Regions from separate parts of the Homo sapiens genome. Here region 1 is linked to region 2. Evidence: fine-mapped expression QTL. A gene starts in region 2. The other region holds a variant in brackets. All regions are shown on one strand. Distances are from middle to middle. Region 1 overlaps LOC102724104 (a long non-coding RNA gene). Region 2 holds the start of CX3CR1 (C-X3-C motif chemokine receptor 1).

The links. PIP is the estimated chance that this variant, and not a neighbour inherited with it, causes the effect.
Region 1: its variant is the best candidate, but not a certain one, in a credible set for the expression of CX3CR1 in neutrophils (Naranbhai 2015, PIP 0.79).

Annotation. Positions count from the first base shown.
Region 1 is chr3:39,256,890-39,262,268 of GRCh38, reverse strand. LOC102724104 (a long non-coding RNA gene) reads right to left here. Exons shown (of 3, transcript XR_940742.4): 3 at 2,806-3,667. Among named protein-coding and RNA genes, the nearest start is that of CX3CR1, 20 kb to the left of the region's middle. RefSeq lists a silencer at 5,249-5,298. The variant A/G (reference allele first, on the strand shown) is at 2,915.
Region 2 is chr3:39,276,845-39,282,223 of GRCh38, reverse strand. CX3CR1 (C-X3-C motif chemokine receptor 1) reads left to right here and starts at 2,188. Exons shown (of 2, transcript NM_001337.4): 1 at 2,188-2,270.

The sequences.
Region 1 (5,379 bases), 20 kb after region 2:
CTTGGGTGGTTGGAGATAACTGGGTCCAAATCCACATTTCGTGGGTAAGAAAATGGAGGCTCAGAGAGGGCCAGCAGGTGCCCCAAGATGCCACAGTGAATTACTGGGAGAGGTAGATCCTTGATTCACAGTCTACCATCTCCTTCCTCATCTTGATAAAAATACAGATCAATCTGACCTCTAAGAGCAGAGAACACAGAAGGAAGGTCTGCAGGCAGATAATGAGGCAGGGAAAAGCAGCCCACAAGATAGCTGAAGAGTTTAACAGAATCAATCTGCACATGGACAGGTGTGTGCTGTGTGGCACAGCCTTTGGCAATTGCCTTTTGGAGACATCTGTATCTGCAATGATAGATGGTGTCAACTGAGACTCATCAGCAAAGGCTGCAGAATTCCCAGAGGCAAATGCTATCAGTGGCTTCCAAGAGGATCTGGGTGGGTGGGTCAAGACTTAGACAGACAGGCCACTGTGGAGGGACAGCCACACCCAGGGGCTGCCCAGTGCTTGGGTAAAATGCTGAATCCCTTCCACATAATTCCACTCACTTCATGCTTATTCTATGGTCATTTAATGACATTCTAAGAGAATGTCTCCTTCCCAGGGACCTTGCCATCAAGAAAGATGGAGCATATAGGCTTTCGGTTACTAAGAAGAGCTATCAACCCTTGTAATCCATTGCACCTAGAGTGTGTACAGGGTCTCATGGTTTTTCCATTCACCTCTCTCTGAGATGCTGTCCCTGAGCATCCAGGGAGAGAGTTCACCCAACAACTACACCTGGGAGCATAAGAGCCTGATTGAGAGGTCCACCTTGGGTAGTACCCGGGCCCAAGATGATGCCCATTTGTGCCTTCAAAATTGGAGCAGTTTGTCCTAACTCAGCAGCTAATTTTTTCTCCACCTGCACCGTACTCACTGGCCCATGGGGACCACTTCAGTTTCAACATGATTTGTAATATTGTTTGCTTAACTTGCTGAGTTGGCAACAAAATTTTGGGCTACTCAAAAGTAGTGTGATCTGAGAGCAAGTGAGAAAAGCGAGTCTTAGCAAATTTAGAAATATCCAGTTTCTCTTCAATATACTCTTCATCCACAGGAGGGCCAAGGGCCAAGTCGTTTTCTGAGGGATGTGTGGCATCGTGCTTCTATTTCCGTTACATTACAGCAGTTGTTAGGCAACAGGGAGTGTTCCTCCAGACACACCCGGGGCAGCGCTGGCAACCGCAAAACATGCTCAGCAGGAAGATTACTCTTTTACTCCATATTTCCTTATTTACTGAGATAGAAACAAAAATAACATTTTAATTTGCATTTCTTTGAATACTAGGTAAGATTGTTCATTTTTCAAGGCGTTTGTTTTAAATTATTTGTACATTTTTCTGATTCTAAAAGAAAGATACTCAGTATAGAAAACATGAAAAATATACAATTTAAAATTAAAAATGTTTAATTACACAATATTCAACCTCCCAGAGATAACTGTGGTTTAACACTGAAGTTATTTTCTGCTATGACCATATTTTAAAAAAAATACATAAGAATAGACATTTTTCAAAAGAAGACACACGAATGGCCAACAGGTAAGTGGAAAAATGTTCAACATTTCTAATTATTAGGAAAATGCAAATTAAAATCACAATGAGATATATCTCAGATTTGTCAGAATGGCTTTTATCAAAAAGACAAAAGATAATAAATGTCAGCAAGAACGTGGCAGAAGGGGAACTGTTGTGAACTGTTGGTAGAAATATGAATTAGTACAACCATTATGGACAACATTTTAGAGGTGTCTCCAAAACTAAAAATAGAATTACTATATGATCCAGCAATACCACTTCTGAGTATTTACCCAAAAGATGTGAAATCTGTTTGTTAAAGAGATGCCTGCACCCCCATGTTCATTGCAGCACTATTCACAATAGCCAAGTTATAGAATCAACCTAAGTGTCCATCAACAGAGGAGTGAATAAGGGAAATATGGCATATATACACAATAGAATACAATTCAGCCTTTAAGAAGAAGGAAACTCTGTTATCTGCGACAACATGGATGGAATTGGAGAACATGATGCTAAGTGAAGTAAGACAGGCACAGAAAGGCAAATACTGCATGTTCTCACTTATGTGTGGAATCTAAAGCAATGAAACTCATAGAAGCAGAGTAGAATGGTGGTTACAGATGGTAGGGGGTGGGGAGAGAGCAGAGAGCTGATGGTCAGAGGGTACAAAATTTCAGCTAGATAGGAGGAATATGTTGCTTTTTTCTTTTTCGGAGTTTTATTACACAGTGTGGTGAATCTAGTTAAGAATAGAGTATTGCACATTTCAAAATTGCTAAGAGAGTAAATTTCAGATGGTCTCACCACAAAATATGTTAAGTATTTGAGATGATGAGTATGTTAATTAGCTTGATTTAATTATTTCACATTGTATTCATAAATCATAACAGTGCTTTTTACCCCATAGTTCTATATAATTATAAATTGTCCATTTACAATTTTAAAAACTGAACAAAACCTAAAAGCACTTGAATTTCATCAATAAGAAAATGGTCCAATAAATTTCAATTTAGCCATACAATAAAATACAGTATAATTTAAAAGAATGAGTCAATTCTATAAATATGACCCTAAAGGGATGTCCATAATATATCCTTAAGTCAAAAAGACAAATTTCAGAGTTAAGCACATTTTTATTTTTAAATATAAACTATATATATATGTTTATATATATAAAATAAGCACATTTTTATTTTTTAAAAATTTGAGATGAGAACATATATACAGTTTTATATCTTTTTTCAATTAGCATTATAGTATGATCATTTTCCCATCTATTATATTCAAACATGATTTTGAATGATTGCAAAGGACTCAATAATAGACTTTATCCATCCAAGCCCTACTGACAGAC[A/G]TGGGTGTTACTCCCATGCTTTTCTCTATGAGGAGTGACAGTATGATGAACATAAATCTTTGCACATATCTTTGATTGTATGAAAGGAATTAGTAGACTAAGAGATTTCAGCATTTGTAAATCTCTTGCTAGCTACTGGAAATTTACTTTTCAGAGAGATGACACTGTGTTGCTGGCTCTCTAAGACTCCCAATCCCTGACCTTAGCACCACCTACCTTCCTAGTCTTTGAGGTCAGGATATTGTGGGCTTTTGTTATTGGGTGACAAACCAGCTACTGACTTTAAGAGGCAGAAAGAAAAGACTTCTGTTCTTAAAAGGAGATGGTAAGGCTGCCCTTTAGAAGAGAGAAAAGAAGAGGGATGAGGGGATTTTTAAAACAGGACCCATAACATCCCAAAACAGTTATTTTAAGGGAACAGAGACCACTTAGCACCTGGGCTAAGGGGACACAGGACAAGCCATCAGAGCCATACAGCATCAGGCAAGAGCAGGAGGTGGAGAGACTTGTTCTGAGGATAATGGGGTTTCCTAGCAGGAGAAGAAGAAATAGAGGTGAGCAGAGCAACCATAAAGCCCTTGTGCAGTTTCAATGTTCAAAATATCCACTTCTATACAAAACTTAAACAACCTGCAAAAGGCAACAGAGAGAACTGATTCAAGATTTAGCACAGTTGATTGGACTTTCAACGTATCCACCGTCATTCTGGATATACTTGTACATAGCCATCTCAGCATAATGTAGAGCTCACACCTGTAAAATAAAAGAAAGAACAAAATCAAACATTAGCAACTTTATTTAAATATTTTGTAAATTATCTCTCGGTTGCATTTCACAAATTATCTATACGTTACATGGAAGTAAAATTTATTAAAAGTTCAAACCATAGTGACTTTATGCATACTTTATACCTTGGGCTTTGCTGGCAGCAGTGATGCTCCAATCAGCCAGGGAAATCCATGAGTTCCAGCTTTAAGAACCCCTTGGCATATCCCGGTACTCTTGCTTTGGGGAGGAGGATGCCCAGCTGCCAGACTGGGAAACCTAATATCAAAAGGCTCATTTACACTTCCAGCACTACTATATGAGTTTCCCTTTGAAAGCGCATTATTTCACTGAGGAAATAGAACCAGAAAAGAACTTCCATGGCCTACCCCAACCACATCTTCCCATCTTCCTGCAGCTGTGCCAGTGCACTCTGCAGTCCCTCCTCGTATCATGGAAGAATCGTCCCTGCGCTTATCTAAAGCCAAACCTGCCACCTGAACGATGCATCCCAGCCCCTTTAACCTTCCCCTCCTGCATTTATCCCCTCTCCTGCATTATCTGTCTCTCCCCTCTGCTGGATAATTGGTATGCAAGCAGGCCAGAATACTTCTCATTTTTAGGAGCCTCCCCTTGATACCACATCTCCCCCAGCTCCTGTCCATGCAGAGGCACTCAAAAGAGTTCTCTCCAGACAGCTCCCTATGAGCTTGCCCCATGTGTAACCCTTCTATAGCCCGCAACCCAATGTCCCTGGCCTGTCTTTCCCCTTGAGGTGAGCTCATTCTTGAATTTTCTTCTCAACCCTCCCCCAGACACACTCTTGTCAAAGTCACCAGCGTTCTCTGTGTTGCTAAATCCCATGGTCCATAATCAGGCCTCCCCTTACTTGACCCATTAGCAGAATTAGGCAAAGTTTCTTGAAGCAGCTTTTCCATTCAGCTTTGGAGATGCCACTCTCTCGGTTCTCCAACAACTTCACTGGATGCTCCTCTGCAGTCTCCTTCTCTGGTTCCTTCTTGCCTCCCTAACCTCTGTGCATCAAGGGCTTCAGGCTCAGTCTCCAGACTTATCTGCTCCTCTTTCCTTCCAGCTTCCCTCTTCTTCTCCCCTCCCTTCTCTTCTGTCCTTTCTCAGCCAGTCGCAAAGCCATCTCTCTACACTGACAAGGTCTAAACCTTTTCTCCAGCCCAGACTTCTCTGAAGTCCAGATGTGTGTATTCAATTCCCTAACAACTTCCCTTGGATATAGAATCAGCATCTCCTGGCACTCATCGCAAAACCCACTCCCCTACAGTCTGTGCTGTCTCAGTAAATGACAACTTTATTCTTCCAGTTGCTCTGGTCAAAACCTCGGAGTCATCCTAGATGATCCACTTTCCCTGGCACTCCATGTAGGGCAAAACCTACAGTGGTTTCTTTTTTAAAATAGCTCTACAGGCCGGGCGCAGTGGCTCAAGCCTGTAATCTCAGCACTTTGGGAGGCCGAGCCAGGTGGATCACGAGGTCAGGAGATTGAGACCATCCCGGCTAACACGGTGAAACCCTGTCTCTACTAAAAATACAAAAAATCAGCCGGGCATGGTGGCAGGCACCTGTAGTCCCAGCTACTCGGGAGGCTGAGGCAGCAGAATGGCGTGAACCCGGGAGGCGGAGGTTGCAGAGCCAAGATTGCGCCACTGTACTCCAACCTGGGTGAC
Region 2 (5,379 bases):
AGGCTGCCAAGGCTCTTTCTGTCTCCATGAGTGTGTCAAGAATGCAAAGCACTAATGCTCTTCACTTGGTCCATCTTGCAGGGTTGAGTTTGCAGTGAGCAACCTTGAAGGATGAGCTGACATCTCGCTCAGGGCCAAATAACCGACTTGCTTACTGCTTGCTATAAAATGGCACGTTACCCAAGGTCAGAGTTCCCTTCCTATAACCTCCCCATCCCTCACACATTCACAGGTATCTATCCAAGCCATGGCATCACTCTGTGGGGCTTGGGGGCAAGGCAACTGACACTGGACGCTGGTTCTCATGCTTGCCAAGCATGAAGCCCTGTGCTGCTAGCAGCTGTGGAACATAGCCGTTAGCTTTAAAAGAGGGTAAAATCACGTCCTGGACAGGACAGCCAGGTGAGTTGGGAAGGGAAGAGAGCCTGCCACGGGCACAGGCATGTTGGGGGAAGTGGAAGTGGTGAGAGCACAGTAGGAAGTGAGAAGGGGCGGGCCGTGCTTACCAGGCCGTGGACTTAAACCAGGATGAGAGAACCCCTGGAGGCGTTTAAGTTGGCAGACTTGGATTTCAGGAAGAGCTCTCTGGCTTCTGGGTGGAGAATGGCCAGTGGGGTAAGTGGTGAGAGGAAAGACAGAGAACGGAGAAGGTTAGATGGGCTTGGGAAATTATCCAGGCCCTGGATGGAGGTAGAGATGTGTGCTCATGAACACGGAGGGGATTACTGATGTGGGGTGGATGAGACTGTCGTCAAGAGTGTGGGACAGGAAGAGAGGGAGAGTCTTGGCCAGATCCAAGAAAGGAGCCCTCAGAAGAGGAGGGGAGTCAGAGGCAAGGAAGGGGCTGAGGCAGCCAGCCCAGCTGAGTGGACCCCAGGAGAGGTATCAAGGGGTGGTGTGGGGTGGGGAGGGGCCAGTGTCAGAAAGTGGATGGGGAGCGGCCTGACTCTGCTTTTGTCCTGTGGCCTTCTGGCCAAAGGCAGGGAAAGGTGGCCAAACACTGAGACCAAGAACAAAGAAAGAAAACTGCTGGTGGACTTCTTCCACCATGAGCAGGCCACCAAGCCCGCAGCACTGCACTGCAGCCCCCAGCTCTGTCCTGGGGTTGGGGGAGGTGAGGAGGGGCAAGGTGGGGAGCACACAGAGCACCCGCTGTCCTCGGAACACCACAGCGACTAGAGGTAAGGGAGCACCGGATGTGGCTGGGATGTGGGCAGCAAGGGGCCAGAGGGGCCTTGAAGGGGTCACAGACCATTTAATGAAGGTGTATTGAAGGCCACCATGGGCCAGGCCCTAGTTAGGGATGGATCAGAATTATATAGCATATGCCAGGGGTCAGGCAGGTAATGAAGTGATCGGAAGGTGATGAGGCAGTGGCAGTTGAGATTCACGTTGCAGTCGCCCCAAGCTGGCCAGGCCAGGGAGCAGAAGCATGGCTGGATGCCGGAGCCCACCAGGCTCCCCACTGCAGGGCAAGAGTGGCAGGGGGAGAGACTGTGAAAGGAGCATAGGCCAGGTCCTGGGTGAAAGCTGTGTCCTCAGCCTTGACTGATGGGTATAGGGAGCCACTAAATGCCTTGGGGCAGAGAGGTGAGGAAAAAAATATTTACCGAGCATCTACAAGGTGCAAGGTACTCACTAGATGCCTTCAGTACCAAAGCTTCTCAAACTTAGTATGCATATCACTCTTCTAAGAATTTCATTAAAATGCAGATTCTAATTCAGCAGATATAGGGCAGGGCTTGAGGTGCTGTCTTTAATAAGCTCCCAGTGCCTGGGACTGCACTTTGAGGAGAAGAGCTGTGTGTGCCCCAGTGTGGTCCAGTGAGTACTCTGGGCTCCCTCTCGTGGGCAGGGAAGCTGAGGGCCCCATGAGCTCTCCCAGCTTCCTGAAGGCTCCCCATTAATGAGAGCTGACTGTGCTGTGCTTTGCTGACTGCAGGGCCTGCTCCCTGCCCCCCACCTCCAGGTTGGGGTAAGTGGCACCTCTCTCCCTCCAGCTCCGCAGTCTTCCCTGAGGTTTAGATCTTCCAGGTTTATAAAGTCAGGCCCTCCTGTTGGCAGCTGGCCTCCACCCTGGAGTATCTGAGCTTGCCTGTGGCAGCATCTAAAGATAGTCTCCCTTACAGGAAACAAGATACTATTGGCTAACTCTGCAAATAAAATGCTCTTAGAGGGAAGGAAAGGGAAATACTCGTCTCTGGTAAAGTCTGAGCAGGACAGGGTGGCTGACTGGCAGATCCAGAGGTTCCCTTGGCAGTCCACGCCAGGTAGGTGCACAGGACTAGTTGGGTACCTGTGGGTGGGGTGGAGCAGTGGACAGCTAATAGGTTAATAATGCCTGTTTGCTTACGTGCAGACAATGGAAACCATTTTCCTGGGGATGTTGTAGCCTAAATATGTCCAAGGGGATGGAAGAGTGGGAGGCAAGGGGTGATCAGATCATTTATAATACACTCAACCTGGTGGAATAGTATTAGAAGCATTAGTAATTACATTTTAGAGACATGGAGAAAAGCTCATGATTTTAAACTAACTGAAAAAAGCATGAAAAATTGCATCTGGATGCTGTTGAGGAATTATTGCTAATTTTTTGAGATGAGAAATTGTATTAAAGTCTTTTTCAAAAAAGAGTCCTTAACTTTTAGAGATGCACACAAGTGTTTATGGGTGAAATTAAATAATTCAGTAGAGACATTAAGTGGGAAATAGAGGAAATATTGACCATGGGTTGCTAATAGTTGAAGCCAGGTGTTGGGTATAAGGAGGTTCTCGCTGCTTTTATTTGAAAAGTTGCTTTTTATTTGAAAATTTAATAATAAAGAGTTTTTAAATTTGTATCTGTATTTTAATATAAATATAAATGCACTTAATATAAATATAAAATATGTATAACATTTAGATAGAGAAAAGCTAAAAGATTACTGTGGTTGATTCTAGGAAACTGCATTGCAGATAGTTTCATGGGTTTTTTTTTCCTTTTTCTTCCACTTTTTGTACCATCTATGGGTTTTTGTTTGTTTTTTGTTTTTTGGGTTTTCTTTCTTGTTTGTGTTTTGTTTTTTGAGACGGAGTTTTGCTCTTGTTGCCTAAGCTGGAGTGCAATGGCACAGTCTCGGCTCACTGCAACCTCTGCCTCCTGGGTTCAAGTGATTCTCCTGCCTCAGCCTCCCAAGTAGCTGGGATTATAGGCATGTACCACCGCCCGGCTAATTTTGTATTTTTAGTAGAGGCGGGGTTTCTCCATTAATAAATTCCTGGCACAAATTTAGTGTTCAATTTTGATATATGTTGTTATAACCATTGTGAGGATACTCAGGCTCAGGTTTGTGTGGGTGGAAAACATGGTCTTCAGAAAGAAATTATGAGTGCAAGACAGGAGGAAATCCATCAGAGGCCCCAGCTGAGGACTGACCACGGCTTGTTATTTCTCTTGCCTTGCCTCTGGCAATCACAGCCTCACAGAGCCTGCAATCCTTGCTTTGTGAGTTTATAGCTCAGTCCAGAGAATGGCTAAGAAAGTTTAGGATTCTTTCAACACCCACTCCACAAAAAAAAAAAAAAAAAAGAAAAGAAAAAAAAATTAATTTTTGAAATACTTGAGGTAGAAAACTTGAGGCAGAAAAAAATTGAGCCAAAAAAAAAGGAAAATTGAACCACGTGAAAGCAGGCAAGAAAGCTTGCATTGCTCAGGGCATCCCAGGCCCAGAGGGCGCTTTGGAGGGAGCTGGGTTTCCTGAGAGGAGGCAGGGTGGGTGACGGACCTGTGCTGGAGAGCCTTGAGGACCACTGTGGGTTGGGAATGGGGGCAGTGGATTGGGGTTCAAAACCCCTGGGAATGAGAAATGGGCTCAGGAAGGCTAGGGTGGATTCTTTCATCTTCCTCTTTGCTTGGCTTTATTTTCACAAAGGAAGGCAGGGCAGGAAATAGTCTCAGCCCAACTTCAGTGTGGTTCTTCTTAGTGCTCAGGCTTACCTGGCACTTGCCACACCTCTGGGATGGGAGCACCTACTATCCATCAGCCACGTGCCAGTCTCCACAAAGTCTGCTCCTGAACCCTGCTCCTCAGCTGGCCCCACTTCACAGATGGGGACATAGGCAGCTTGGCTTTGGAATGAAGGAATGAAGTCAGGAATGAAGTCCTGGCTCTGCACTTGGTGACTGTGCACTGGGCTTGCTAAGTCTGTTTCCTGCTTTTAAAATGGAGATTGTCCATCAGCCTTTGAAGCCATGTAATGGGTATGTGTCAACTTTCTGCAAGGATTAAAGGCATGGTATAGGAAGTCCCAAACACACTGCCTGACCCATCTTTGATGCTCAAGAAACGATATATGTTGTTGTCATGAGGAAACTGAGCCTCAGAAAGTTTGGATACCTGAAAAACACTGACTACTATTGAATGAGGTTGTGAAGAATCCAGAGCTGTAGGGGCAGGAAAGCAAAGAACGTATTAGAGCTGACCCAGTCAGGACGATCGTCTATCCCCTTCCTCACCCCACCCCATCCCAGGAGGAAGCCTGCCCGGCCCTAGGCAGCTATGGCACAGTGGCAATGTCAGGTATGGTTCTCCCTAGCCAGAGACCCTAGCCTCAAAAAACCTCCTTCTTGGGATCCAGGCATCCAACTGCTCCTCCCCAGCCCCAGCCTCTGACCCAGTATCCTGAGTCCAGAGACGTTTGGAACCAGCACCTGTAATGGAGGAGCTGAACAAGGAGGGGAACTTCTGCTGCTCCACAGCAGGTCACGGTCATAGGAGGGAGTGGAACCAGAATGGCAGAATCCAGATCTTGGCTGCCTTTCCCAAGGACTTGTTCTGATTCCTAGCAGCACAGCCCAGGCATTCCGAGAAGTTGGGCTCTCTGGCATCACTCACTCTGCCCAGAAGAGCCAGGGGAAAGTTGGGGCTTCTAGCTGAACCTTGATCCCACCTGCCCTCTTGAGGGGCTCAGAATCTGCTGGCTGCTTCACAGGTGGGATTCTCACGGCACGCTGGCCACAGCTGATGCTTCGACCCCCTCATCTTGTTTGGCCAAAGTGCAGCTTTTTAGCTTGTGAGTAAGGAAGAAAAGCTGTATCATATGTCTTTAAACATCTTCCTAGACCACCTTTGTTTTCCCCTTAAAGTGTGCTTAAGGAGAAAATGGAAAGTCTCTTTTCAGTGTGTTGTATTTTGTTTATTGCAAAATACAACACACTGAAAGAACAATGTCTGGGTTAGCAAAGTATTAGATTTAATTTCCCACATTACTACCATCCAGGCTGAGAAAGAGAACCCCAGAAGCCTCTCTCATGTCCCTTCCTGACCACAGCCTCTTCCTCTCCCACAAAGAACCACAAGTCTGACTTCTATGGTGATCACTTCCTTGCTTTTCCCTATA